Linked DNA regions of Homo sapiens: regions 1, 3 and 4 are each linked to region 2. Evidence: fine-mapped expression QTL. A gene starts in region 2. Each other region holds a variant in brackets. All regions are shown on one strand. Distances are between the middles of the regions. Region 1 overlaps TEC (tec protein tyrosine kinase). Region 2 holds the start of NFXL1 (nuclear transcription factor, X-box binding like 1). Region 3 overlaps NIPAL1 (NIPA like domain containing 1). Region 4 overlaps NFXL1 (nuclear transcription factor, X-box binding like 1).

The links. PIP is the estimated chance that this variant, and not a neighbour inherited with it, causes the effect. A credible set is the group of variants that fine-mapping cannot tell apart.
Region 1: its variant is the best candidate, but not a certain one, in a credible set for the expression of NFXL1 in whole blood (INTERVAL, PIP 0.89).
Region 3: its variant is the best candidate, but not a certain one, in a credible set for the expression of NFXL1 in whole blood (INTERVAL, PIP 0.71).
Region 4: its variant is the best candidate, but not a certain one, in a credible set for the expression of NFXL1 in whole blood (Lepik 2017, PIP 0.63).

Annotation. Positions count from the first base shown.
Region 1 is chr4:48,189,426-48,198,117 of GRCh38, reverse strand. All of the region lies in intron 2 of TEC (tec protein tyrosine kinase), which reads left to right. Among named protein-coding and RNA genes, the nearest start is that of TXK, 60 kb to the right of the region's middle. RefSeq lists enhancers at 186-355, 1,915-1,964, 1,985-2,034. The variant G/A (reference allele first, on the strand shown) is at 4,583.
Region 2 is chr4:47,910,496-47,919,187 of GRCh38, reverse strand. It overlaps NFXL1 (nuclear transcription factor, X-box binding like 1), which reads left to right and starts at 4,605. Exons shown (of 23, transcript NM_001278624.2): 1 at 4,605-4,823; 2 at 4,983-5,219; 3 at 8,194-8,364. The coding sequence starts at 4,985. It overlaps LOC101927157 (a long non-coding RNA gene), which reads right to left and starts at 4,961. Exons shown (of 3, transcript NR_125879.1): 1 at 4,484-4,961. RefSeq lists enhancers at 4,625-4,854, 4,365-5,050, 5,051-5,737.
Region 3 is chr4:48,020,770-48,024,769 of GRCh38, reverse strand. The region is part of intron 1 of NIPAL1 (NIPA like domain containing 1); the gene reads right to left. Among named protein-coding and RNA genes, the nearest start is that of NIPAL1, 6.0 kb to the right of the region's middle. The variant C/A (reference allele first, on the strand shown) is at 1,781.
Region 4 is chr4:47,847,916-47,856,607 of GRCh38, reverse strand. NFXL1 (nuclear transcription factor, X-box binding like 1) reads left to right here. Exons shown (of 23, transcript NM_001278624.2): 20 at 1,445-1,549; 21 at 4,666-4,752; 22 at 5,460-5,513; 23 at 8,272-8,692. The coding sequence ends at 8,445. The region is part of intron 1 of LOC101927179 (a long non-coding RNA gene); the gene reads right to left. Among named protein-coding and RNA genes, the nearest start is that of CORIN, 14 kb to the right of the region's middle. The variant G/C (reference allele first, on the strand shown) is at 3,864.

The DNA of each region.
Region 1 (8,692 bases), 280 kb before region 2:
GGAAATGAGTTCAGAGATTTTTACTTACAGATCTTGGACAGGAAGGGCGGAATGGGCTGGGAGGGCAGTCCTCCATCTCCGGGTTGCATGAGGCAGGAATGGAGTCAGGCAGAGAGAGAAAATGCATGTGGGAATTGGCAGTATATATAAGGGGTAGGGTGTGGGGTCACTTTGAGTTCCTGGGCAAAGGCCTAAATGGTGCTTTTAAGGGAAGCTTCGATAAAGTGGGGAACCCTGTCTGCTAGATAGGAGAGATGCCTTTAAATTCTTATCTCTGGCTGCTGGCCTGAGCCATTTGGGTGTGGTGTGGAACTAGAACTATCAAGGGTGACTGAGCCCTGCTTTGGGTATGAAAAAGTTGAATCTATTCAAAATGGATGCTGAGGCAACATGAAAGTATAAGAATTCACTTCAGGACTAGGACAGTTAATTGTGGAAAAGTAGCAAGATAAGGACTAGTATAACAAGGTTTGTACAGCTTTCCCTCAGCCTCAGCTCCCCATCTCTGGTGATAAGAATGAATGTCTTTCGTCCTCCTGGTATAAGGAGGGCACCTTTTTCATGGGAGTTAATCTCATGCTTTCAAGAAGAACAAGGAAGGTCACAGTGCCCTTCTTGCATGTGCTGTTTTTTTTAAGTGCCTTTAACTCAATCCATATGCCGAAGTAGCATATTTTTGGGTGCTTACCATGTGCCAAACATGGTCTTATATGCTTTTTAAGTATTAACTTTAATCCTGTGAACTGTTTGAGGCAGATACAGTTACTATTCCCATTTTACAGATGATGAAACTAAAGAACAGAGAGGTTGAGTACTTTGCCCAAGGTTGCAGAGTGAGCATGTGGCAGAGCTGGGACCCCAGCCCATGCAGCCTGATTCCCAGAGCTCTGAACCATTGTACTGCACTGCCTCTGGATAGCTTTGTGATATTTTTTGGGCTACCAAATTGTGTGTTTATAGAAGGATCAAACATATATTAATCTTTATATTCACCGGAATATGACTTAGCCGTCAAGACAGCCTGACAAACCGGCAAAATATGTCTTTGTAACATTACTCTTGTGCTTTGAAGAGGAATTTTTGACCAAAGATGCTCCCTGCTATCGTGTGTTAAATGCTGTGAGTTACCAGAGATCAATTGTTCCTAACGTAAAAAGGAAGTGCTAATCTAGTCACTGGCTGGCTCAGTATTGGTTTCATACTGTAAGATAGAACTAAAATAACAGCCTCGAAGGGTAAAAATAGTGGAGTCACATGAAGCATCAACCGTCATTTTAAAAACAGAATTGTAAGACCCATGAGGAAAGGTTAATTTCTTTTTCTGTTTGAAAAGAGTGGATGTTGGTAGACACTGGTCGTTTCTATTACGGCCTCCTGTAATTTTAGAAAACCGATATTTGTCATGACCTGAGGAAACATCTCATTCATGGCTTTTATAAGACATAGTCAAATTCAGCATCAACTCTCAGAAGATCTTTCTTGGAGTCTAGAAGGTAGGTGTGAGGATCGTTTCTTAATCAAAACTAGTGGCTCTCGCTTTTAGGTTTCCTAAGGGCTAGTATGCTTTTCAAAAATAATATTAGTAGCTAAATTGATCAAGCACTTAAACTGTTTGTCAGCGTTCTTCCAAAAGCTTTACATGAATTGACTCTTCGAATTCTTACTGCAATCATATGAAGTTCTGGTGCTATTATTCATCCCATTTAATAGCTAATGAAGTGTAGGCACAGAGAGGTTAAGTAACTTGTTCAAGGAGATACAGTGAGTAAGTAGCAGAGCTGAGATTCAAACTCAGACAGTTGGGCTTCAGACTTTTTGCTTTTAAGCAGTAAGCTCTATTATAGAGGCCTGCTGGTTCTTAGCCCAGGGAGATCTAAGACGTGTAAACCAGAATGCCTGCCCACACTGAGTAGGGATCTTCCCCACTCAGTCTACTAACTTGCATGCCAGTCTCCTCTGGAAACACCATCACAGACACAATCAGAAGGAAAGCTTTACCAGCTCTCTAGGCAGTCCTTCTTCCAGTCAAGTTGATACCTAAAGTTAACCATCACACCTTCCAAGACTGGTTGCTGCATAGGTGCTATAATGTGGTATCTCTGTACCACCAGAAGGGAGGTGAGGCGGGGGTAAGGAAGAGAAAAGCAGACAGATAAAGCTTCTGTTGCAGGTGCTGGTGGGCACTCAGTGAGTGGCGTGGCTATTGGACAGTGGGGATTCTGTATTTTGCACTGTGGGGGCATCTCTCAGAATGGCCAGATATTCTGCAACAGGGATGAATGAGAGTTAGTTTCACTAGAGCAATTGAGAGTTAGTTGCATTAGCAAGAGCAAACTAAGAGGGAACAAATAGTTTAATTATGGCTCCTAGCTGTGATAGCCAGCAAAGAGTACAACATTGCAGCCTAGATTTCTGTATCTTACTCATTTGCCCTTGATCAATTTGTTTAACTCAGTGCCCCATTTACCCAACAGTAAATTGCAGATGCTAAATGACTCATTACTTTGGCAGAGTCACTGGTTCTGTAATTAATTATGGAGCACTTTAAGATTGATGAATGCAAGGAGCTGTGCACACACGACCTGTACGAGCAGTTGTATAAACATCGGGATTGTTGTTGTTTCTAAGGCTTGCTTCCTGTTCTGAGCCCAGTGTGCACTTTACCACAAAGGACAGCAAAAGCTTTATTAGTAGCAATTAAGAAATGTGCCATCTCTGCTTTTACTGGTTTATGATGGGCTCTTTTTCTATTCTCAAAAAAAAAGTTTGTAAGTAGATTCAGTTACAACTTTGATCAGGCTTTAAAAAATATTTGAGAAGTGTTTTTTAACCTTTTATCATAGAATATTTACAACTTACTGAACAGTAGACAGAATAGTACAGTGAACCCCGTGTACCCATTACCCAACCAAGTAACCCTAGTCACACTTCCTCCCACCTCATTATCTATAACAAATCCCTTCTACTCCCATTGTCTTGCAGAAACCACATCATTTCTTCTACAGATGGTTCAGTATTCATCTGCAGAAGTCAGGGAGCCCCCAGCTTAAGCAGAATCTTAGTGCCATCACCACACTCTTAAATATCAACAGAACTTCCTTAATATCATCAAGCACTCAGTCAGTGGAAGAAATTGTTTTAAAAATAATTTTATCTACAGAATGTTCACAGTTGATGGGTTGTATTACAAAAGTTTGCTGTAAGTTGGTTATTTGCAACACCAGTTGAATGAATATTCCTGTAGAAACTGTAGTAAAAGCAGTGATTGGCCCGCATTAAACCCACAAAAACCCATGGAATACATAATGAAGCAATTCTGTGTATTTCTCTTTGAGTATTTTACTGAGGGGAGAGTTGATGGGCAATTCACCGTCTGCTACTAGAGACCTGGCTCCAAAATACATTTTCTCTTTCTTGTGGGTGTTATTATGGTGATTCCTTCTCCCTGTGCCCACTTCCTCACTCCCCCCAACTCTCATCATCTACTCATCAAACTTCCCATTAGAGAAGCGAGAGGAAGAAACTTTACCTGGTATGGCTGACTGTATTCATTGAAAACAAGGAGGGAATGTTTCTCTTTTAGGGGGTAGCAAAGGGTATAGGAAAGCTGCCATTATATGCAGTTTAGTATTTTAAAGACGTCTAGAAAACAAACTGCAATGTGATCTCTTTAACATTGAAGAGAACTAGAGAGATATATAGGGCTAAGTAGCAGCTGATTTAAAGACCAGGTTAATGTTCTGCTTTCGCAGTTCCCTAGCAAAGCTCAGTTCAGTTTTAAGTAATTTATATTTCCAGTCCATAATTGTGTGCATGCCTCTGTGCCCTCCACTAACATCAGATAAGCAGGGAGTGGGGCTCTTCTTTGTAGAAGAACTGGCTAGATATAGGCAGGGTAGAGGCAAAGTTTCCAAGAGGCTGTGAGCCTTTCGATGCACCTTTCCAGAAATCCAGCCCCAGGGGAAGGCTTTAGGAGAATTGCCACAGGGTTTCCCACCCTCAGGGCTGTCATTGCTCTGGGTTATCACTTCATCAATCCATTGGTCATGGTTGGGATACCAGGAGGTGGGGTGGGAATGGTGTTCCCCCTTGGGCTGCAGTGGTAGGTTTTGTTCCACAGATTTGGCCATTGCGTATTTGGATTACTTGCTGCCCCTGCCACCCACCATCTATCCCAGAAATTGCATTTTCTGTCTTGCCCTATTTGCCATCTGTAACTCTCACCCACCAGAAACTTACAAAGCTTATCTCTCCCAAGTTCCTCTTGATAAGAAATCATGTTTATGTGATTCTAGTTATTTCCACTTTCATAAAGATATAAAGTATCATTAAAAAAAAAACCCTAACACATGAAGTGCTTACTGGACAGCCTCAGAACACACACGCAGTCCTACTAGAGAAACAAAGTGCTACTAGTCAGTATTAACCATAGAAACCTAAGAACTGAAACCTAGGCTAAAGGGCCTTCCTTCTTTTTTGTTGCTAAGAAAAATAAAACAAAACAAAAACAAACAAAAAAACAGGCCAAAAGATGCTCACTAACATATCCAATGATAACCATCTCTCCCTTGACAGTAGTTAC[G/A]TTTATCTCTGAAGATTGTAATGGGACAGTTACTCTGTCACTTGGGTATTACTATGTGCAGCAGTACACTTTGATGGAATAGAGAGGAGAGGAAGCAGAGTCTGGGATTATTTCCAGGAAGCAGGTCCTGGAGATTCCTGGCTTGCCTGTGCCCACCTGGTGTGGTATAGGTCTGAGAGAACTGCAGCAGAAGAAAGAAAAAAGATAGAAGATAAAAAATATGAGCAAAAACTCTTCTCGAAAACGGCGTAGTTAAGAAAAAGTGGTGGTGCTGGTTATGCTCTTCAGGAGGCTGAGGTGGGAGGATCGCTTGATCCCAGGAGTTCAGTCTGGGCAATGTAGCAAGAACCCTATCTCTTAAAAAAAAAAAAAATCAGAAAAAAAGGAAAAGAAAAAGTGGTGGCTACAACTGGATATTGTGAAATTAGACCTGAGAAAAGTCTAACTGCTCAGCAATTCCACTTAGTTGAGTCCTCTCCTATTTATTTATTCATTCATTCATTGACTTATTCAACAAAGTTATTGGGCACCTGCTAGGTGCCAGGTTGCCAGGTGCCAGGCTCTGCTGCAGGTGCTGGAGAGGGAGTAGCTGTGCCTTTGCTGAGCTTCCAGTTGGTGACCTTTATTAGACCTGCCTTGAAGAAGGGGTGATAAAGAGAAGGCTAGGACCAAGCAGCAGCCTTGGTAGGAGGTGTTGAATTTATTTTATTTATTACTCATTTTCATTTAAGACTGAGTGAATCAAATGGATGGGTGAGTTCTTTCTAAGTTGGAATAAATACTAGGGCAGAGCCTTCATTTAAATGAGAGCTGATCAATTACCTACTTCTGGCCCATTATAAACCAGAGTTATTTTGCTTAATCTTTCTACTCATTTTTTTTTCTTTTACCATTGTTGTTATTGCAGTTTTAAGCTTATGATTTAGAACATTAAATTATTACCAAAGAATTTTATAGTTTCCAAGTATCCCCAGACTTCAGGGTTTCCGAGAGCAGGGGCCATATTTTTTTCAGCATTATACAGGTATGCTCCAATGACTGCACGTATTTAAATTGCATTATTTGATGAGTTTTCACATTAGGTATACATCCATGAAACCGTCACTACAACAACTGAAACACTGAGTATGCCCATAACCCCTAAAAGTTTTCTCATGCCACTTTATCTTCATACCTCCCTCTTCATGCCCACCATCCCTAGGTAATCGCTGATCTAATTTTTGACATGATAGATTAGTTTGCATGTTCTAGAATTCTAGAATAAACAAACTTATATAGCAGGTACTCTTTTTTAGACTAGCTTCTATCACCCAGCATATTATTTTGACATATATTAATTTGGTTATAACAATATTGCATTTCTATTACTGTGAAGTACTCCATTGTATGGCTATACCACAATTTGTTTCCCCTGTTGATGGATGTTTGGGTTGTTTCCAGTTTTGGGCTATTATAAATAAAGCCACTATGAAAGTTTTTGTGTTAGTCTTTGTGTGGACATATGCTTCCATGCCTTTTGTGCTTAGTGCATTATCTAGCATGTAGTATATACTGAGCAAATATTGTCCTGAGTGGTTGTTAGACTTCACCTGCATATCTTTTATGGTCTTAGTCTGTCACCCAGGCTGGAGTGCAGTAGTGCCATCATAGCTCACTGCAGCCTTGAACTGAGTTCAAGCAATCCTCCTGCCTCAACCTCCCGAGTAGCTGGGACTGCAGGTGCACACCACCACACCTGGGTAATTTTTAAATTTTTTTTGTAGAAACAGAGTCTTGCTATGTTGCCCAAGGTGGTCAACATAGCAAGTGTTATGTTGCTGGGATTACAGGCATGAGCCACTGTGCCCTGCATTGCCTACATTTCCATGGTAATTGATAAATAAGACCAAATTACTTTTAAAAATAGTTATTTAAAATATTATTCTGTTTTAAGAGAAAGAATGGTTCTGCTATTATCCTATTTCCCTAGTTTGTTCTGTGATATTTTATGCATTATAGTCAAACTTAACTGTCTACTCCTATATTTATTGAGTTCCTGGAATATTTACTGAATTCATCCTTAAGGAGAAAGTGAAAAACTATTGGTATGTTACCTAATGAAACAATGTAAATGCCAGTGAAATATTTAAAAGATCTGTATTAAATATTTTTTTATTGAACTGTATAAGAAAATTAGAGAGTATATAATATTAAAAGTTAAGGCTGTTTATATGGGAAAAAAGTTTAAAGGCTGAAAAATTGTATAAATCTTATATTTAAAGGCAAAAACAAACCAAATAACTGACAGTAAGTGATTGTGAGGGTCCAGATAAATTATGCTATGTGCCTGTGAGCATCTCACAATTAATCCTGAAAATAATCTAGGAGATAGGTTATGTTAATCTAATAATTTTAAGATCCCCATTTACAGATAAGGAAATAGAGACTAGAAGAGGTTATTTAATTTGCATGGGGCCACAGAGCTGGCATTTAAGCACAGCTTGCTGGTCACTGAAGCCTGGGTGCTCAATCATTATGTCATATTGACTCTGCTGTGTTAAAACATTGAGACAATACTGAAAATATTGTGGCATGTTCAATAAATTTTTTAAAAAGTCCCCTAGCAGCATAGTCAATTGCTGTGTATATTATTCACATACATGTCTCTGAAAGTCAGTCAACTTTACAAGTTCTTCATCAGTTTTAAACTTTCCTAATAACTTCTGATTTTATATTTAGGGTAACATTTTTGTAGTTTTCCCATCATTTACATTTGCCAGCCTGTTTCTAGTCACTTCTTATTAGTCTCAGGAGACAGCAATATCCAGTCTTTTTTCCTTTAACAATCAAATCACCATTGTCTCTTGCACTTGAGGCTCTTTGGCACTCTGGATCCAGTTGTGATCCACAGATAATGCTCTATGATTATCTTTCTATTTCTTGCCTCAAATTTTAAATAACTTTGGGAACTTTGATTCGTCTTGCTAGGGCGTCAAAATGCTGTCCATGACTTATTTCCTACCTCGATTATAAATGCTTTGTAGGTAGGAAATCTATCCCATATTTCTTTGGTTCTTGCTAAAGAGGTTTCTGACATCACATTGGTCTGAAATCCTGGAGTCAGAGAAATTTGCCTCTCAGTAAAATTCCAAGTGAACCTGGGAAGATCATTTTAGCAGACACATGGAGAGTAAGAGGGTTTTGCTAATGTGTAATGATAAATTGAAATTTGTTGTAGAGAGTGCCTCTGTGGGCTTCTGTTTCTTTAGAAATTGGCTCCATGAAGGCTTAAACTTTAGGTGTGGCAGTTAGTAGAGTTAATTTAGGTTTTTAAATGGGAAAATTCATAGTTATAATCTGATAAATACTCACCTGGCATTTCAGACAGTATTGAACAAGTCTCCAGTCAGCATACATACTCACTAGAATTGCAGGAAAAGTACTTAAGACAAATGAAGTATTTACATGTTATTGCTTTCAAATCTAAATATTAATGTTTGTGGTGGTAGTTAGCACCCTACTTCCCATGATGCTTAGCTCCGAGTGCTAAACAGATGGTAGATATTTCATATACTAGATATGGCCAGGGACTGTTGTCCCTCACAGATCTGCAAAGTGGGAGTCCTTTCTGTTGCTGTCACCTAGTGTCAGTTTCCCACAGGTGTTTTTGCTCTTGCTATTTTTGGAGAGGTAACATGGTATAGTGGTCATTGGAAGGCTTAAACAAGTTGATATGCGTAAACCATAGGACAGCACCAGGCACACAGTGCTATTATAAATCTTACCTATTATTCTTTATTATTTGAATATGGGTTAAATCAGATACTATGATTTAGTATATTTCCATTCACCACATGGAATCTGATCATTTTGCATCTTTGCTGCCAGATTCAGATCCCAAATGCCAACACTGAGTTTCACGTAAATTCTTATTTCCTAGTGAGACATTTCCCCATGCACCATTCTAGGCTGAAAATGTGTCCAGGTGGGAGATCTATCTCCAGAAGCCAAATGTTGCCATAAAAATCCATTGTCTATTTCTGCATTTTCTGTATCTTTTCAGTAAAATGTATTGAAACCTCGGGGGTGGGAATAAGTAGGCATTTTGGATTTGTCTGGAAATGCTTACGT
Region 2 (8,692 bases):
ATAAGAGCTATTTACGACAAACCCACAGCCTATATCATACTGAATGGCAAAAACTGGAAGCATTCCCTTTGAAAACTGGCACAAGAAAAGGATGCCCTCTCTCACCACTCCTGTTCAATATAGTATTGGAAGTTCTGGCTAGGGCAATCAGGCAAGAGAAAGAAATAAAGGTGGGTATTCAATTAGGAAAAGAGGAAGTCAAATTGTCTCTGTTTGCAGATGGCATGATTGTATATTTACGAAACCCCATTGTCTCAGCCCAAAATTTCCTTAAGCTGATAAGCAACTTCAGGATACAAAGTCAATGTCCAAAAATCAAAAGCATTCCTATACACCAAGAACAGACAAACAGAGAGCCAAATCATGAGTGAATTCTCATTCACAATTACTACAAAGAGAATAAAATACCTAGGAATACAACTTACAAGGGATGTGAAGGACCTCTTCAAGGACAACTACAAACCACTGCTCAGCGAAATAAAAGAGGACGCAAACAAATGGAAGAACCTTCTATGCTCATGGATAGGAAGACTCAATATCGTGAAAATGGCCATACAGCCTAAGGTAATTTATAGATTCAATGCTATCCCCATCAAGCTACCACTGACTTTCCTCACAGAATTGGAAAAAACTACTTTAAAGTTCATATGGAACCAAAAAAGAGCCCACATAGCCAAGACAATCCTAAGCAAAAAGAACAAAGCTGGAGGCATCAGGCTACCAGACTTCAAACTATACTACAAGGCTACAGTAATCAAAACAGCATGGCATTGGTACCAAAACAGAGAGATAGACCAATAGAACAGAACAGAGGCCTCAGAAACAACACCACACATCTACAACCATCTGATCTTTGACAAACCTGACAAAAACAAGAAATGGGGAAAGGATTCCCTATTTAATAAATGGTGCTGGGAAAACTGGCTAGCCATATATAGAAAATTGAAACTGGATTCCTTCCTTACACCTTACACAAAGATTAACTCAAGATGGATTAAAGACTTAAATGTAAGACCTAAAACCATAAAAACCCTAAAAGAATACCTAGACAATGCAATTCAGGACACAGGCACGGGCAAAGACTTCATAACTAAAACACCAAAAGCAATGGCAACAAAGGCCAAAATAGACACATGGGATCTAATTAAACTAAAGAGCTTCTGCACAGCAAAATAAACTATCATCAGAGTGAACAGGCAACCTACAGAATGGGTGAAAATTTTTGCAATCTATCCATCTGACAAAGGGCTAATATCCAGAATCTACAAAGAACTTAAACAAAAGTACAAGAAAAAACAACCCCATCAAAAAGTGGGCAAAATATATGGATAGACGCTTCTCAAAAGAAGACATTTATGCAGCCAGCAGACATATGAAAAAATGCTCATCATCACTGGTTATCAGAGAAATGCAAATCAAAACCACAATGAGATACCATCTCACGCCAGTTAGAATGGCAATCATTAAAAAGTCAGGAAACAACAGATGCTGGAGAAGATGTGGAGAAATAGGAATGCTTTCACACTGTTCTTGGGAGTGTAAATGATTTCAACCATTGTGGAAGACAGTGTGGCGATTCCTCAAGGATCTAGAACTAGAAATACCATTTGACCCAGCAATCCCATTACTGGGTATATACCCAAAGGATTATAAATCATGCTACTATAAAGATACATGCACAGGCATGTTTACTGAGGCACTATTCACAATAGCAAAGACTTAGAACCAACCCAAATGTCCATCAATAATAGACTGGATAAAGAAAATGTGCCATATATACACCATGGAATACTATGCAGCCATAAAAAAGGATGAGTTCATGTCCTTTGCAGGGACATGGATGAAGCTGGAAACCATCATTCTCAGCAAAATATCACAAGGACAGAAGACCAAACACCACATGTTCTCACTCATAAGTGGGAGTTGAACACTGAGAACACATGGACACATGGAGGGGAACATCGCACACAAGGGCCTGTTGCAGGGTGGGGGGCTGGTGGAGGGATAGCTTTAGGAGAAATACCTAATGTAAATGACAAGTTGATGTGTGCAGCCAACCAACATTGCACATGTATACCTATGTAAGAAACTTGCACATTGTGCACACGTACCCTAGAACTTAAAGTATAATAAAAAAAAATTGTTTTGACGATAACAATACCTACTTCATGGTTATTGTGAAGATTAGATGAGTAAAAGAAAAAAGGACCTAGAAGAATGCTGGCACATAGAAAGCACTCAAGGATTGCTGGTCACTGTTATTAGCTATTGAATATTTGAGGGAACAGAAAAAATTTCTCAATAAAGTTTGACATGGAAATTTAGATAATATGCTAGTCCAGCTCTCTGGCATATAACATAATTCTAAGAAGGATCTCTCTTTTTAGTAGCCACTCAATACTTCTTGGACATTACTCAGTGATAATTACTATATTCTCTCTCAGAGTATAACAGCTCCTTTCCTGTATGTGAAAACCCCACTGAAGAAAAGTCTCACTTTAGGGTTTTCAAACTTTGAAAGCTGGTTGCAGCTTTAAACTTACAGTTCTTATACAAGTGCAGCATTAAGAGAGTTGCTGTGCACCTGTTAGTTTCTAGCCAATGAAGTTATATCATTCTCAGAGATGTTATTTCTTTTCTTCTTTTCATTTTTCTGAGACGGAGTTTTGCTCTTTTGCCCAGGCTGGAGTGAAGTGGCGCGATCTTGGCTCATTACAACCTCCGCCCCCTGGGTTCAAACAATTCTCCTGCCTCAGCCTCCCTAGTAGCTGTGATTATAGGCACCCACCACCATGCCCAGCTAATTTTTGTATGTTTAATAGAGACAGGGTTTCGCCATGTTGGCCAGGCTTGCCTCAAACTCCTGACCTAAGGTGATCCACCCGCCTTGGCATCCCAAAGTACTAGGATTACAGGCGTGAGCCACCATGCCTGGCCATGGGATGTCATTTTTGAGTTTGGTTAATGTACAGGCAATTCTGCAATATCTATGTTTAAGACATTAAAAGCATGGTTTCTAATACTAGACTACTTAGGATTGAATCTTGGCTTCACTACTTCCTAGCTGTATGATCAAGGGCAAATTGCTTAATCTCTCTGTGCCTCAGTGTTCTCAGTTGTAAAACGGGGATAATAAACACGGTTACTGTGAGTACCAAATTAGTTAATACATAACGTAAAACACTTTAAACAGTGCCTGACATCTAATAAATGCTATCTAAATATTATAATAGAAATTTATGGTTAAAATAGAAGAATTAACTAAGTTGAAGGACTGTACAATAAGCCATCAATATGTTTCTCAATCCCAGACAGACCCCAGAATGAATTTTTGCAATCTACCTGTCAGTATATATGCACATGTATCTTATTGGAAAACTCAGCAAAATCATAAGATTTAGGTCCTGGCCCTCAACTATTTTCCTTAACAAAATCTACTTTAGGGAGATGCTGTGAAGGTAAAAATTAGCATGTCCCAGGGAAAGCTCATTGCACACTACAAAGGACTATGACAATAACAGGCTTTAGATTTATTTTCTACATTGGCTCTAGCATTTTAGAAGGGTACTTTTACTACTCAAGCCACTTTCCTGCAACTCTCCCCCGAATTTCCCTCCTTCACAGTGGCCAACCTCAAAGCGTTTTCAATGTAAGTGCCTTTCCTGTTAGTGAGACTTCCCTATGAAAATAAATAGTTTAAAGGTTGTTGGAGCCTAAAACTCACTAAGCCTGGAGAGAGATGTGACTGTCATCTGAGTTACACGTGGTTACAACTTCTGTTTCTCAGATTATAGATTAACTTGCTTTCTTATTTTTCTTGTTCTATACAATGGCTAGAGAGAATTAAACGAAGTTAAGGACAAAAACTTCCTGCCTTCTTAATGATCCTTATAGATTAACTTCTGCTTTGTTGCCCCGGTTTGCTTAGACCAGATGACAGAAAATCCTTTATGAAAAATGTTAAATGTACACTTCCCAAAAAGAAACACTGTCTATAATCAAATTGTTGTAACTATTCTCTAACCTTGTATGAGAAAATGCTGTAATCCTGCTAAAAAACCTCTCAGTTTCTGCCTATATAAGTGAAATCTTAAATCTCTACTTCGGAACGCTGACTCCTTCCTTGGAGTCGGTGTTTCTAGGTAGGCTATCCTCAAACTTCGCGCTTTTGATTATTTTACATTGACACCTCCTGTCATCCGCAAGCTCAAAGGCAAGGCTAATAAAAGATGGCAGAGAGCCAATTAGGGACAGAGCCATGTAATCCTCATACCCAGGTGAGTTTAGGGCAGTCTTGCAGAAGCAGAAGCAAATTGTGGGGTCACGAAACCCTCCGGACCCGCCCGCCTCCACCACCACGCGCCCCTATGACCTTCGACCCCTCCCTAGCCCCAGAGCACGCCGGGAGTTGTAGTTCCCAAAGGCCTGTTCGGGCCAGCGCAGGCGCTTGGGGTTTCCCTCCCACCCAACCCCCGCACTTTACCGGATAAGGAAGCGGCCCGTGCTGCCACGCAGTCGCCGGAACGCGGGCGGGGGCTTCTGGGAGTTGTAGTCTGTTGGGGGCGTGCGCAGTCGGTAAGGAGACGTAGCTTTCCGTGGGGTGTACCACTGCAGTTGGTTCCCGGCGGGAGACGCAGGGTCAGTCTGTGACTCTTCCCCTACCACGCTCCCGCAGAGGCTGAGGAGGCGGTTTCGACTTCTCCTCCGGCTTTCTGTCTTCGGCACTGTGTGCTTCTTGCTCCGCGGTTTATTTCTGTACCTAGTCCTCCCTCCCCTCTTCGGTCCATCTCCAAAGCCCGGGCTTGGCGGGGACTCGCCCTCCGGTAAAGGCAGGGCCGCGACCTCCTAAAACCCGGTCGCCGCCCTGCAGGAACCTTCCTCACTCGGCCCCTCACACCGGGTTTCCGCACTGACCCTCCTTCGCCTCGGTCCTCGCTGCGCTCACCTCCTTCCACTCTTTTTTTTTTTTTTCTCCTTTGCAGGGATGGAAGCTTCCTGGCGCCAGGTGGCCGGTGGCCGAGGCCGATCCCGGGGACGGGCCACTGCCGCCCCCTCAGGAAATGGAGTCCATCTCCGCGGCGCCGGAGGAGGGCGAGAGAAGGGGTCGGTGGGCGCAGTTCCTTCTGGCACCAGTCCCGGAGGAGTCGCGACCACGGCGGCTGCAGGGAGCAGGCACAGCCCCGCAGGATCCCAAGCCCTGCAGACTACCGCAGCCAGCGGTGAGAATGGCTCCCGCCCGCGTGCTCACCTGGATGCCTCCTAAGGCAGTTACTAGTCAGGACCGCCTCCGCCCTCGCCTTCTTTCTTTCACTGCTTTTCCCCTCGTTCGGGAGTTTGTTATCGGGCCCACTTCTCCAGCCTTTCGGGTGGCTGCTCTTTTCGGCACTCTAGGTAGATTTCCATCGCACCTCTTTCATCTTAATTTTAGGTGGTATTACCTTTGTTACTTCCCTCCACTCTTGCCTACTTGAATCTCCAGACCATCAGTTGTAAATTGTGGCCCGGTGTTCTGATTTGGTCTATAATGTTGTTTGGTTAACACAGAGTTTTAAATGTGGATTGATTGTCAGCGGTTGTTTGTCGTTTTTAAAAATCTGGTTAACAACCTTGTGGCTTTAGTTATCTTTGTGCATGGCAACAGTCAGCTCGGCTGAGTCACAGAAATCCCATTTAGATTGGACTTGGGCATTCCATCTCACATTCTCTCTCATTTCTGGAGCCAGGTGTCATTTGTCATCTTTACCTTTGCCTTTGTTTCTTGACTTGTCTTATTCCTTGTAAGCACTTGAGCTTTTGATACCTTCCTTGACTGTAGTTCCTATTTACAAATTCCATGTCCTTCTGTGGACATATCTGGTGTTGCCTCCGATATATCAATACTTTTCATCCAAGACCATGTTTTCGTGGAGCCAGGGAGGACTTACACACAATTGTGCATGGGGCCGAGGGAATAATCCCTGAAATCATTTTATTTTTGTGTTTGGAATGCATTTCAGGATACATTTTTTTGGGGGGTGTGGAGCAGAATTGAGTATCTTGAATGATTTTTCTCCTAGGCTAATTTGAAAGGTAGGTGGTATTCTCTTAGCATGCAGTTAATGGCCGTGATGATAAGGTATACAATATGGAGACGTGTGAACAGGTTTGGTAAACTTTTTTTTTTTTTTTTTTTTTTTGAGACAGAGTCTCGCTGGTCGCCCAGGCTGGAGTGCAGTGGCGCAATCTCGGCTCACTGCAAGCTCTGCCTCCTGGGTTCAGGCCGTTCTCCGGCCTCAGCCTCCCGAGTAGCTGGGACTACAGGCGCCTGCCACCACGCCTGGCTAATGTTTTGTTTTTTGTTCTTTGGTTTTTTTTTTTTAGTAGAGACGGGGTTTCACCGTGTTAGCCAGGATGGTCTCCATCTCGTGGGTAGAAGGAAAACAAGCATTCTGTCCGGGCGCGGTGGCTCAAGCCTGTAATCCCAGCACTTTGGGAGGCCGAGGCGGGCAGATCATGAGGTCAGGAGATGGAGACCATCCTGGCTAACAGGGTGAAACCCCGTCTCTACTAAAAATACAAAAAATTAGCCGGGCGGGGTGGCAGGCGCCTGTAGTCCCAGCTACTCGGGAGGCTGAGGAAGGAGAATGGCGTGAGCCCGGGAGGCGGAGCTTGCAGTAGCCGAGATTGCCCCACTGCACTCCAGCCTGGGCGACAGAGCAAGACTCCGTCTCAAAAAAAAAAAAAAAAGAAAGAAAAGAAAAAGAAAACAAGCATTCTCTACCTGGACAGTTGAGATTTGGCTGTAAGAAATAATACGTGAGAAGGTTGTCTTGTCAGCTTCTCTTTACTTTGAGATGATGTTAGGTGAATACATTTATCAGGTTATGAATGTTCTCATTATCTCTGTCCAGTTCAGCCTGTTTTCTTATGTATCTTTTAAGTGCTAATTTCCCGTATATTAATGACATTTATCATCTCTTTTGTGACAAGTTTTGAGTTATATATCTCATAGCCAGTTCTTTTTTCCCAGTACTCAAAGCTTGCTAGGTAAGCATGATACACATTTTCGTCGAGGTTTACTTGAAATACTCAATTTGTTTTGTTAATAACCCCTAACCAAACTGGCTGCAATAAGAAAAGGAAAATGTTTCATGAGGGAACATAATCAAGTACGAATATACCACCCAAGATAAGAGAGCTTATCTTGGTAGTGGCTTATCAGTTTTAAGTATAATGTTAATTTTAAAATAGTCAATCAGTAAATTTAAAATCCTCTCAAGATGGGAATTCATGAACTCAGATCAGTTCTGCAGGTTTGTGGCTCCTTTCTTAAACTATGTTTGCTGTCCGTAAGAGCTTATTAACACTTAGTGCTTGAAGAAAATCCCTGTGGTCCTTGCTCTCAAGAAGTTTGAAGTTTCTTTGGGAGTATGTGCAGTGAAGTAATCTGGTTTTGTTTTGCATGATTAATCAAGTAACAAAATGAGAAGTACAGGTAGTGCTGAATAGTGGAAGAACGAATCCAAAATTAACATTCTTTTTGGAATGAAGTTGGAAGAAACATGTTTTCCATGTTAATACTTTGTGTGGATTAATGTAAAATATGTTTTTTTGTGTGACCACAAGAAGTCCATAATAAAGGCAAAAAGTTCTTGACCTAAGAAGCCGATTGTAAATATAGTGGGTGCATAGTGAGTACTGTTGGTACAAACTCTTTGGTAGGGCTGGACTGGACTGGGCTGGGCCGTCGTGTCCTATCCTACCTGTTGTTCAGAAGACGGTAGTTTGAAATACCTACCTTCCCTGATTCTTTATGTGCTCACTGTGGACATGTTCCCTCACTTCTTAAAAATTACTGTGCACAATGTACTTTAAAACATCTTAATTTTTGTTAGTCCTTATTTTGAAGTTGATCACCAGTATTTTGATAGTTTTATTGTATTTTCATATTTTTTTTCTTGATTTGTTAATCACCGTTATCATAAAAATTTGCTGCATTTTAGCAGGATACTTAGAAAAGTGAAAGTTTTTGTTGTGGTATTCTCTTTAGTTGTGTGTCAAGGAATTTGAAAATACTTTTCTCGTGGATTACAGGAAGGTAGAATGCTCCAAAGGTGACTTTCAAATGTGTGTTGTAAAATGATATATTAGCACATTATGCTTTTCTTTTTGAGAGATTGTTTTGCAGAAATGAAACTTTTTTCTTTTAAACAGAGCTAATGTCTCAGAAAAAATTTGAAGAAATCAAGAAAGCTAACCAAGCTGCAGCCAGAAAACTTGTTGAAGAACAGTTTAGCTCTTCATCTGAAGAAGGAGATGAAGATTTTGAAGGAAAACAGGGAAAAATACTTGCAAATACGTTTATAACATACACTACTCAGACAGGTACTGATCTTTTAAATTTTGACTTTTGACGTCAATGAAACTGTATTCCTGACATTTTTTTGGTAATGCCTTTGTTCTATATGGAATAGATTTTATATCTTAAGATGAGCACTGTATGTTATAGAGTTGAATTTTTGTACACTTTGGTATTTGAGTTATATATTGTGTAACACTAATTTTTCTATAAAGCAAATAGAATGGCAGTGGCTCTTTTATAGCCTTAGGAGGCCTTTGTGTGTATTTAATTGGCATTTCAGTAGAATGCTTGGATGGGGCTGCTAAAGCTCCTGAGCGGTGGACTGGGGCAAGTTTTTTCTGGTTGTGATGA
Region 3 (4,000 bases), 110 kb before region 2:
ATCAGCAACTTGATGGAGCAGCGAATAGCTGTTCAGACCGGCTTGTGCTCAACAGTTCAACACAGCCCATCACATCCACTTCACTCTGCATTATCAGCCTGGCTACTGGAAAGCAGGGCTTGTGGGGCCTGAATGTAGGGAGAAAGCATAGCAACCTCAGTCTAGAAATCACATTGCAAGAAATCTGTTCGCTGGGCATGGTAACTCACACCTGTAATCCCAGCATTTTGGGAGGCCAAGGTGGGATGATTGCTTGATCCCAGGAGTTTGAGACCAGCCTGGGCAACATAGTGAAACCCCATCTACATAAAAAAAATTGAAAAATTAACCGGGCGTGGTGGTGCACGTCTGTGGTCCAAGCTACTCGGGAGGCTGAGGAGGGAGGATCGCTTGAGCCCAGGAGGATGAAGCTGCAGCGAGCTGCGATCACACCACTGCACTCCAGCCTAGGTAACAGCAAGACCCTGTCTCGAAAAAGAAAAAAAGAAAAAAGAAATTGGCTGAGCATTATGGCTGTAATCCCAGCACTTTGGGTGGCCAAGGCGGGTGGATCACTTGAGATCAGGAGTTCGAGACCAGCCTGGCCAACATGGTGAAACCCCATCTCTACTAAAAATACAAAAATTAGCGGGGCATGGGCATGGTGGTGCATGCCTATAGTCCCAGCTACTCTGGAGGTGGAGGCAGGAGAATCACTTGAACCCAGGAGGCGGCTGCAGTGAGCTGAGATCGCGCCACTGCACTCCAGCCTGGGTGACAGAACGAGACTATCTCCAAAAAAAAAAAAAAAAAAAGAAGAAATCTGTCTAACTCATTTGGTGGGGTATGAGTCATTTGGTGGGTATGAAGAGTTATATATTTCAAAAAACGTTTTAAAAGTGGGTTTAGTTTTCTAGTTTAGTTGATTTTTCAGGTCTGTTAATCCACTTTGTCCTAAAGAAAATGGAATCTAATAAAAAGAATTTAAATATCATTAGGCTTTTTAAAAAATGAGATTCAAAGAAGCATGTAAATCCCCTGAACCAAGTCCACTATTATAAATGTCTTGGAATTTTGAGGCTAAACACTAAAATACAAAATGAAAACGTTTTACACTATGTAAGAAACTTTTTATAATCTGTTCTCCACTTGAAAAGACACCAACAAGGTGACATTGTGACAAGATGTTCTGTCTTCCCATCTTTCCTTTAAAAATGGCAAATTCTCCCATTATGAATTACCCTAAACAAAAGAGGGTAAAGGAAAATTAATCAGAAACAATTTTGTAATTCAATTTTTAGAAAAGTTTTACATTTCAAAAATCTTAAGAAGGCATATAAGCAACAAGAGGCAGTTTGATCAAATGATGTCTTAGCAACAAGACTTCCATAAGTGGACCTATGTACCCCTGGCAAAGCTTCATGAAGCCACCTGAATTTTACCACATGCAAAGTTAAGAAACACCCATGAAGTTCAGGTCTGGAAAATAATAAAATAATGGAATTCAAGGTTTTCATGACTATTATTTCATTTATCTCTGTAATTTGAAAATGATCCAACTTTGTTTCAGAAATCCAGAATAGTTGGACATGGTGGCTCACCCTTGTAATCCCAGCACTTAGGGAGGCAGAGGCTAGAGGTTTGCTTGAGCCCCGGAGTTCAAGACCAGCCTGGGCAATATAGCGAGATCTCCACAAAAACAAAAACAAAAACAAAACAAAACAAAGAAATAGAAATCCAGAATAAACTCAAAGTCAAAACTAAATATCCTAACTGCTGCAAATTTTCATTTCTTTTTTTT[C/A]TGAGACAGGGTCTCACTCTGTCACCCAGGTTGTAGTGCAGTGGTGTCATCACGGCTCACTGCAACCTTGACCTCCTGGGTTTAAATGATCCTCCCATCTCAGCCTCCCAAGTAGCTGGAACCACAGGCATGCACCACCATGCCCAACTAATTTTTTTAGTTTTTTTTTGTAGAGATGGGCTCTCACTACGTTGGCCAGGCTGATGCTGCAAATTTTCAAGCAAGCTAGCCCTTAGCAATCTTGTTCCACACGATGTTTATCTCATCTAAGCCCCAAGAAGGGAAAGTGATTAAGTATATTTTTGTAAGAATTTTGATTACATTCATTCCTAAGAAAACATCGGACCTGACTTACCAGTGAATTCCATGGCTGCATTCATGTCATTTACTATGCAGTTAACATAACCACTCCAAAACTTTGTCTCTGAAATCAGTGTGGGTAGATCTCATTCCAGTGAAACAATATTCCTTCTAAGCTGTTGATACAGCAAAATGTTTCTGACATTGTAGGGGGTGTGGGAGCAGAGGGTCATAAGGGAGATCAAATGATCACTGTTGCATTTTGCAAGTTCTCATTGCAACTGGCAGGCATGAATGCTCCAAGTTTTATGGCAGGAAAAATAATAAAAATCTTGTCTGGTTACTGACCTTAGGACTTAAATTGTTTTATGCTTTGGGAACATGTTAGGGAGAGAGCCTACAGCAGATATGACTGAAAGAGGAAAGAAAGGATGGGTTAGTGGATGTGGAGTGGCCTACGGGAGAAGGGAAGAGATGGGTAATGGATGGTGTGTGGGCAGGGAATTTGGAGTGTTTTAAAGGAATCAAAGACATCTCAAGTCACAATTGGCTTATCAAGATTTAAGTAAGCACAGTAATTTTCCAGGGAGTTTAATCCAGACTTTATTCCACAGAAAGAGAACATCTACTCCATTCATTATGCTTCATTTTTAACAGACACTATCAATAGTCCTCTAAAGTGACTGTACCAAAGTACACTCTTGCTAGCCACGAACATGTACTTCTTCTTTGATGTTATTTTTCTAAATAGAGAATAATGAATATTTAGGAAATATATATTATAAATATATATATATATACACACCAATGTATCAACCAGCCAGTTTAAGAAATAAAGCATCACCCCTCAGAGTTAGTAACTATCCTGATTTTCTCTTTAACATTCTTTTGCTTATAAAAAAGATTTTCTCCATATATCTTGAAAATGCTTTTGCCTCTTTTTGCACCTATGAAAGTGTAATGATAAAGAATTTGTTCTTAGGTGACTTGTTTTTGAGATTCATCAAAACATGATGCATGAGGCTGCAGGATTTGTTTTTTCCCCACTGTTCTAGAGAATTCCACTGTATAACTATCACACAACTAATTTTTCTGTTTTATAGTTGATTGATATTTAAGTAATTTACAGGTCCCACAAACAGTACTTCTAATGTTCTTATATTATGTTGAACTATATGAAATTGATGATAACTGAACAATTTGAACCCTATGACAAGTAGTTTCATATGTTTCAACCTAATATTTATCTTCTATGTACAGGTGTAATAGTTTACATACACACACCTTTAACATTTAAAAATGAAGATCTACTATCTATAATCATGGGCAAGTTGAGTAATGGCTCTTGGTTTCAGTTTCCGCATCTGTAAAATGAGGGACTTTGACTCAATGATTCTAAAGTTTGATCATAACCTATGTTTGTTCTCAGAATTACTTACAATACTGGTGCCTCATAAATGTTGCTGATGGACCAGTTCTAAACTCATAGGCACTGATAGAGGAGAGATATTTTAAAGAAACTGATGCCAATATATTAAGTGACACTGGCCAAAGTTATGTAACTGCTAAAACCAGGGCCAAGTAACCCAATTCCCAGCCAGCATTCTATTTCAGAAAAATAAAAACATAAAGTACAAGAAAAAGCCAGTTGAAATTTATTATTCATGTTTATATAAGGATGAAATGCTTTAAATAATTTGTCAAATATTTGCCTATAGAGAATAATAATATAAATTTAAATAATAATTTAAATTATCCAGTTTATTACATGGAATAGAAATCTGGTTTTAAGAAAGTCAATAATTGTATAAAACTACCTTTTTAATCACCGCAAGATATTTCCAGTTGGGGGTCTCACCATCTATTCTACTGTGATAGTTTGGATTATTATTCATTCAGTATTCAGCCCCTTACCTTTCC
Region 4 (8,692 bases), 63 kb after region 2:
AGGATTCTAAATTTCTTTGAGTGGAGTCAGTAGTTTGAAAAATCAATCTGGTGAATCATAGAGATCAGTAATTAGAGAATTTAAATGTTTACTGAGGGTTCTACTATTTGGGAGGGATCTTTGTTAGGGATTATGACATGAGAGACACAAAGAAATGCAGATGTTCCTCAGTTTATGGTGGGCATATGTCCTGATTAAATCCATTGTAAAACTGAAAAATTGTTTTAAGTTACACCACCGTAAGTTGATGACTGTCTGACCATTGCCCTCAAGGAACTTATAATAATAACAACTTTTATTATAATAACTAAATATACTGAACTCATTTAATCCTCACAACAGCTTTATAAAGTACTAATACTCTTTTACATGTGAAATTTTACATGTGAAACACAGAGAAGTCAGGTGACTTGTCTAAGATCCTGTAGTTAGTAAACAGGTAATCTGGGACTCAGTTCCAGGTAGTCTGACTTTGACATTTAACCCCTAACAAATAGTGTATTTTATTTGTTAGGGTTGGAGAGACAGAAATATATGAAGTGCCTAAAAAAAATTGTTTTTTTGCAAAATTTCAAGACACCACAAGCAATGTTACAACAGTTTAGAAACAGATTTCTTAACTACTATTATGTATTTATGTATAGGCAGATTTATATCAGGCCATTATGGTGATTTAAGTCATGTCTTAAAGTGTGGATAAGATTTGAATAGACAGAGAGACCATGAACATTTCATCTTAATGCTTGACTAGGATAGGAAGACAGTAAACAATTAAAGACACGGAGCATAAACATCATGGCAATTACTGAGTTGTTTTGGCTACCTAAATAATATTTTTTTAATATTAGTAGAAAGGGTAAATGTTGTAGAATAAAAGGCTAAACAGTTATAACACCGTATAAGGACAGGGCATTTTCTTTTTTGTTTTTTTTCCCACAGTGCAGTACAGGGAAGGTAGGTGTGTCATTGTATTCCATGTGTTCACCCATGAATCCAAGTCAGCTGGCAGCTCTGCTCTCTTTGGCATATGGTTTCCATTACCGCTCCAGCTTTCATCATATCCAGGACATGGGGAAGAGAAGAACATGGAAGTATACTCTTGAAATGATCTGAAGCATGAATCACCTGTACTTGCTTACATTCCATTGACCAGAACTCAGTTATATGGCTATAACTAGCTACAAGGGTGGCTGTAAGATGTACTGTTGGAATGGAGCTGGGGAGAATAATTAAATATAATTAAATTATATATATATAATTAAATTATATAAGTGTAATTAAAATAATTTATATCTAAAAGAAAAATAGTTTACAAATTATCCCATTAGCTAGGATTGATTGACCCTTTGTGTGATGGACTCTCTTAAAATTGTTGGGGTATGGGGGAAACTAGAGTATGATCAAGATGTAAGTATGTAATTGCTTTATTTTGATTTTATTTTAGCTTCCTTGTGGTCATAGATGCAAAGAGATGTGTCATCCTGGTGAATGTCCCTTTAACTGCAACCAGAAGGTAAAACTTAGATGTCCTTGTAAAAGAATAAAAAAGGTAAATATTTTAAGTTATTGAAAATACTTTTCTATATAAGTTGTTTTTGTGTGGTTTTCTTGTTCTTGTTTTTTGATCTATGTGTTTTGGTAGTTGTTTGGCTTTTTTTTTTTTTTTTGCCTTTTAATTTTGAGGTTTTACTTCATAGAACTTTTTTATTATTGAAATGAGCCTACTAGTTCTTTAAACATTTATTTTAAACATAAGCTTTGGCGATTTAATTTTCTGCAATTTAACAGTAAAAGGAAAATTATTTTTTATGTTGGAACCAAATTCAATGCCCTGTTTTGGTCAATGTGCTTTAGATTTGAGGTCTTTGAACAAGGAACACAATGTAACGGGTAGAATGTTTCATTGCTTAAGAAATGGCTTGAGATTAACTTTGTTGCTGTTATTTATGAAATTCTTTTTACCATCAGTATTGTCCTTTGAAAATATTGCCTTAAAAAGACCTCATATGAATAGCCTTATAAAGTAAAATAACATGTAAACTTGGAAAGAACTAATTTTAAGATAAAATGATGGTAACAGAGGAGTAAATGGGCAAAAACTAATGATTACAAAGCCTGATGGAAACAAACTATATACTGCTCAACAAAACTTATGAAGGAAAATATACTGTCCTAATAGTCTTTTTCTCAATTCTCTGTTTCCTTGATCTTCCCTGTTGGCAGTGCTTACTCCTTTGAAACCAACTTTTTTGACCTCTGATTTACCCTATCTCAGTTATAGTCGTAACTCCTTTTTTTTCCTTCATATTCCTATTGTCATTCCCTAAAGCTTGTCTTTTTTGTCTCTTGAAATTCGCTTTTATTCATCCATGTGATGGATATGTATTGAGGATCTTTTATAGGTCCTTTGCCTTTCATTTATGTTCATAGTTTCTGATATGTTTTCCTAGGATAGGGAACTTCTGAATTTAAATTTATACACTTGGCCTTTTAGGGAGTGGAATCTTTAAGTTTTAGATATTTAAATTGACCCCCTGTACCTGAAAATAAATACTTGGTCAAGCCATTTTTAATGTGAGATGTCTCTTAAGTTTTCTCTGAAATCTCATGTCTTGTCCAAGTGCCATATGCCACCCACCCGTTAGTACTTTGGAACAACTCTTTTCTGGGCTTTGGCCACAACTTCGTGACCCATTTCCTTGTCTCTAGTCACACCACTTCCCTGTTCTAAATTCTTCAATGGCTCTTCATCACTTATGGAAAAAGTGCATTGTATAAAAAATGTGTATGTGTAGGTATATGCAGACTCGGCATACCAGGGAGGCTATGATAAGACATTTGCCTGCTTGTTCAGTCTCGTCATCTAGCAATCATCTCTGTGAATCTGTTACTTAAGTGCCCTAATACATATATTGTACCCTCGCTTAGCTTAGGCTGTGGCAATGTATATATATTTTTTTCCTGTGTAAAATACAATATGTTTTTCCTTTAGCTCTCTGCTTACTAGAATCCTGCTAATACTTATTGGAAGCACTTCCTTGTTTGAGAAGGTTTTCCTTCCCCAGGTTCCCTTGGGAAGGCTTAGCTGTTCCTTCCTCTTGACTTTCTTTGTACTGGGTTCATAATGTAGAGCTTTGTGATTCTAGGTATCTGTAACCTTGTTTCCTCATCTGTAAAATAGAGTTTATAGAGATTTATTGAAAGGAATAAAAGAGGTAGTGCTTACATAGCATTTAAAACAATGCTATGTTTAATAAATAGTAGCTGCCATTACTATAAAAGAGGTAGTGCTTACATAGCATTTAAAACAATGCTATGTGTAATAAATAGTAGCTGCAATTACTATTGTTATTTATTTAGCACTTAACAGATGATTATACTGTTTATTTCTTACTGTGTTCCATTTCCCTGTCATGGTGTTTAGCATGTTATAGGCACTCTGTAAGTATCCTCTGAATGAGAAAAGATAAAATCCTCTTCTAAGCTGATGGACTTAATGTCTATAAACACACGATACTTATTTTTGTCTCCAGTGTTTGTTCATGTTAATTTTCTTATGTCTGGACTGTCTTTGGAGGACAAGACTATGTTTATCACTAAATCAAGCCAAAAATGAAGAACTAAGGAATAAAAAAAAAAAAACCCTCCAAGTAATAAAATTCCATGCCATAAAATGCTTTTACTAAATGCACTTTACTCAGGATTTGGTAATCTCATGTCTAAGCTGTGGTAGATTTGAACAAAAAACTAGAGTCTGAGGGTCTGGTGAGACAGGAGAAACTGATACAAATTAAATATACTGAGAGTAAAAGTGACATTGGCAGCAATAAATGAATGAATAAAAGATAGATGTACTACAAAAG[G/C]CAGTCTAAAACTAATATAAAGACCACTCTTCAACTCAGTAGGTCATCGTTTTATTCTGTCGTAGTACAGAAATTGGTCATAGTTTTGATGTCAAGACATCAAAAACAGTAGATCAGTGTTCTTTCATTAAGGAGGTAGTGAAGTGCCAACATAAGCTTTAGAACAATTTTCATCTAAACTTAAAAAAAGTTTAACAGTCGAGAGAAAAATTTGTAGCTCCCCAGAAAACTCTCTAGAGCTGCACTATCTGAGATGGTAGCCACTAGTCACATGTGGATATTTAAATGCAAATTGTAATGAATTAGCATAAAACAGTATTAAAAATTTGGTTCCTCATTTTCACTACCCACATTTCAAGTGCTCAGTAGCCATATGTGGCTAGTGCTACTCTGTGGACTAATGCAGATTTACAACATTCCATCCCACGCACATACCAGGAAGCTCTGTTGGACAGCACATTTGTAGAACATTGTATTCCCTGGACACTTTGCAAGAATAACAAACAATAAAGAAAAGTAAAGAATAAAAACAACATGGGAGCTAAGTCCAATAGTGGCACATAGTAATTATTAAGTTGATTTTTAAAAATTTTATGGTATTCTCTTTTTTAAGTTAAGAGAAAATAAGCAAGTAATCACTATTTGAAGCAGATATTTAATGCTTGCAACTATATCATCATTAAATATTAAGACATCAAATAATACTTATAACCTTAAGCTATCAGATGAACTTTGCTTTTTTATGGCAGACAGGTCTTTGAGGGAAAAATCATTTAAAATTTGAAAATCGGGTTGTTTGTAGGAATTGCAGTGCAACAAAGTACGTGAAAATCAGGTTTCAATAGAATGTGACACAACGTGCAAGGAAATGAAGCGGAAAGCATCTGAGGTAATGTCTCGTTAAATATCATTTTAAAGACTAGTGGCCTTTCCCTTCTTATTTTGTGCATTTATGTACTTATTAAAAACAACTTGAAATCTCATTTTTTTGCTTTTATAATAAAAGCCTAGTTTTATAGGCTTATTTTGAATGGCAGATTGGGATTTTCATTGCCTAGTGTATATGAAGGCTTTTCATCTTCTATGCCCGTTATAAGATTTTGAGATTCTTTGCTGCTTGGGTTATCTCTAGTGTTACTCTTCCCCTCCATCAACCCAATCAGTGACCTCTTGATTTTGTTTGAAAGTAAGGATTCCCTTCCATGATAGCACATTTAAGATAAATTTAACTCTAGAGAAACAGCAGTATTTAATAATTAATTCTAGATTCTTAATACAGCAACTCAAGAGGAAAAAAGGCAGTTTTAAAATTTGCTGTTACAGTGTTTTAACTCTTTGAATTACGATGTAATACCGATTTTACTTGTTAAGCTGAGATGCTCATATAAGGTATAACACTCCATCCATGACCACCTTCAATTTATTAGATAGTGCCTTGGTAAAACCTTGTCTCAGTATAGCATTTACATTTCTTTAAATGATTTCAAGCTCCTAAAAGTTGATATGGGTTAATAGAACCTGGATGGGTAGATGTTAAAATTCCATATAAAATGTGATGACTAAATTGTAAATTGACTTTTGTATGTGTATAAACAGATAAAAGAAGCAGAAGCCAAAGCTGCTCTTGAAGAAGAAAAACGAAGACAACAGGTAACCAAACAAAATACCCAGATTTATGTCTCTTAGCATCATTGCTAGATTTTGTGCAAACACGGGGTATATTCCAAGGTCAAACTAAGGTCTAGTCTCTATTGTGAACTGAAAATAACAGTTCTTGTAAAACAAAAATGAGCCATCTACTAACTTGACTTTAAGTATACTGAAACTCTGAAAAGGTATGAGATCTCATATATTCCCAAATTTTTTTTTTGTATTTCCAATTTACTTTCTTGCCAATATCATCCATACTTCAGCCAGAAGAATTTTAATTCCTCCTTTGGCTGGGGAGTGAGAGTGAGCGAATCATCACCATTGTAAGGCATCTTCTGGAGACCATGACTTTACTTAACTAAAAGTATTTGAGTTCTATTTTACTGAGTTGCAGACCACCTATAACAAATAAGTGCAGTTTACTAATCAGTACATTTGTTTTAATAATATATTCCCATATTTCCCTATTAGATCTTTAAATGCGGGATTATAACCTGTTCTTTGTTGTTACCTAGAGAACAAGTACATTCCTGATACTCCCTGTTTAAGTATTTACTTTATTGATCATACACTTGAAAGAGTGGCTTGACTTTCTAATAGTGATGTATAACTTTTTATTATTATTTGTCAGTTTGTATCTTGAAATGCTTTATACTTATCAGATTGTATTGTGTGCTAAGCTACTGCCTTTATGAATGATGAGATTGAAACTTGCGTGATTTGCATGAATAAGGAAATTCAAACTTTGATGAGTTGTAGGAACAATTAGAACAATTAGGAACATTAGAAACAATTCATGTAGTAAATAATGGTTGGCCAAGGTGACCTTTGAGATTTTATGGTTCTGTAAAGTTGATTTGCCTGATATCCCCAAAATAAGTTATCAGAGCTAAATAGTAAAACATAAGTTGGCTGGAATCCTAGGAGATTAAGTTATTAAGAATAGTTTAGTATGTTTTCTCCTTATTCCCTTTGCTATCTTTTTATAAATCATCATGGATGAAAATCTTAGATACATTCCCTGTTTACTGACTCTTTAAACAGAATATAATCAGTCCTTAGTATATGTAGGTTCTGCATCTGTGAATTCAACCAACCACAGATCGAAAATTTGTTTCAAAACAAGTAAAAAAAAAAAAAAATAAATAATACGCATTTTAAAATACAGTGTAACACCTATTTACATAGCATTTACATTGTTATTAGGTGTTATAGGAAATCTAGAGTGATTTAAAGTATACAAGAAGATGTTTGTGTGTTATTTGCAAATCCTCCACTATTTATGTAGAGACTTGATCATCCTCAGGTTTTTATATCCAAGGGGATCCTAGAACCAATTTCCTACAGATACTGAGGGATCACTGTATACAGCACATAATATATACTTGGTGACTGTGAGTCACCATTTAACTGTCAGTTATTTTACTGTGTCTGTAGTCCTCAAGTTTGCCTGCTTTTAAGATATTTTGACGTTTTTTATATGTCAGAAACTAACCACTTGGGAGTAGTCTGACATTTTGGCTCATTGAAGAATGCCACTTTGTATTAAACTAAGTTTATTATTAGATCTTTTTCAAGTGTGGTTTATGACCACAGTAATGGATATGTGAACTAAAGTTTACATTTCCTCCTATTAAATAACCATTTACAAAGTTTTAGGTGGATATTATTAAATACATATATATTTTAACTATTGTCTTAATTACCTATGCACTATAGCATATTATATTACATTATTATGTGTAAAAGTTTAATAAGTACTTAGCAGTAGGATAAAAATCCCCATTTGATATTGAATGCAATTCAGTTATCGTCTTTTAGTACTAGTTTAAAATTTTTATGTCTAAAATAGTCATTTTGATTTTAAAGCATGAAGAATTTTTTCCTTTGAAGAATTTTTACTATTTTTAAAAAATGTATTTGGTAGAGAAGAATCGAGTTCTGGCAGCTTTTTTCTCTTTACTCACTTGAATTTCTTTCTTAAAAGCCACTAATGTTTATTGCATGCATTGTAAACAACTAGAATTATAGGTATCTTCATTCTCACTAGGCATCACAGCACTTGCTAGAAGCTTTATAGAATGCTGGTTCTATAATAATTGGGTTGAAGTATAATGGTGTCAATGTATAAGACCAGTGTCTATATTTTAGAGCATCCTGATTTAATAAGACGTTTTATTTTATTTATTTATTTATTTATTTTTTTGAGATGGAGTCTCTCTCTGTTGCCCAGGCTGGAGTACAGTGGCGCCATCTCGGCTCACTGCAAGCTCTGCCTCCCTGGTTCACGCCATTCTCCTGCCTTAGCCTCCCGAGTAGCTGGGACTACAGGCACCCGCCACCATGCCCGGCTAATTTTTTGTATTTTTAGTATAGATGGGGTTTCACCATGTTAGCCAGGATGGTCTTGATTTCCTCACCTTGTGACCCGCCTGCCTCAGCCTCCCAAAGTGCTGGGATTACAGGCGTGAGCCACCGTGCCCGGCCTAATCAGACATTTTAATATTTAGTATCATAGTCAGCCCTACAGTTTGAAATATTCTCTTCTGTTATCTCCCAGTCTCCTTTCTGCTTACCTAAACCCTGAATTTGTTGAATACAATCAGTAGTGGAGAGTAGTGTTTTAAAAAATCAAATCAATATATTGACTATATATCATTACTATTAAAACATTACCCAAATTGATTTTTATGTAAATGGAAACTTTCAAATCAATGTATGCATTGAATTTAATTAAAATGATGCTGTTTTTATTTAGGCTGAACTAGAAGCTTTTGAAAACAGACTGAAGGGTCGTCGGAAGAAGAACAGGAAAAGAGATGAAGTGGCAGTTGAGCTATCACTATGGCAAAAACATAAATATTATCTCATTTCAGTGTGTGGAGTTGTGGTTGTAGTGTTTGCCTGGTACATCACCCATGATGTCAATTAAAAAAAGTTTTGATCTTTTAATGTAACTCAGATTGGATTTAGATAAGTTGTTAAATTTGAAATATTAGAAAATGTATATTATAGAACATGATATATATTTACATTCATCTCTGTATTCTCTCAGCTGTTGTTAGAAGGACAGAATGTTAAACTTTATCTTAATTAGTATACTAGAAAGGGCAGTATAATACTGTTTTAAAGTGAAGGCATGACTGAAACTAAAATATTTCATAAGGCTTAGCTAGAGG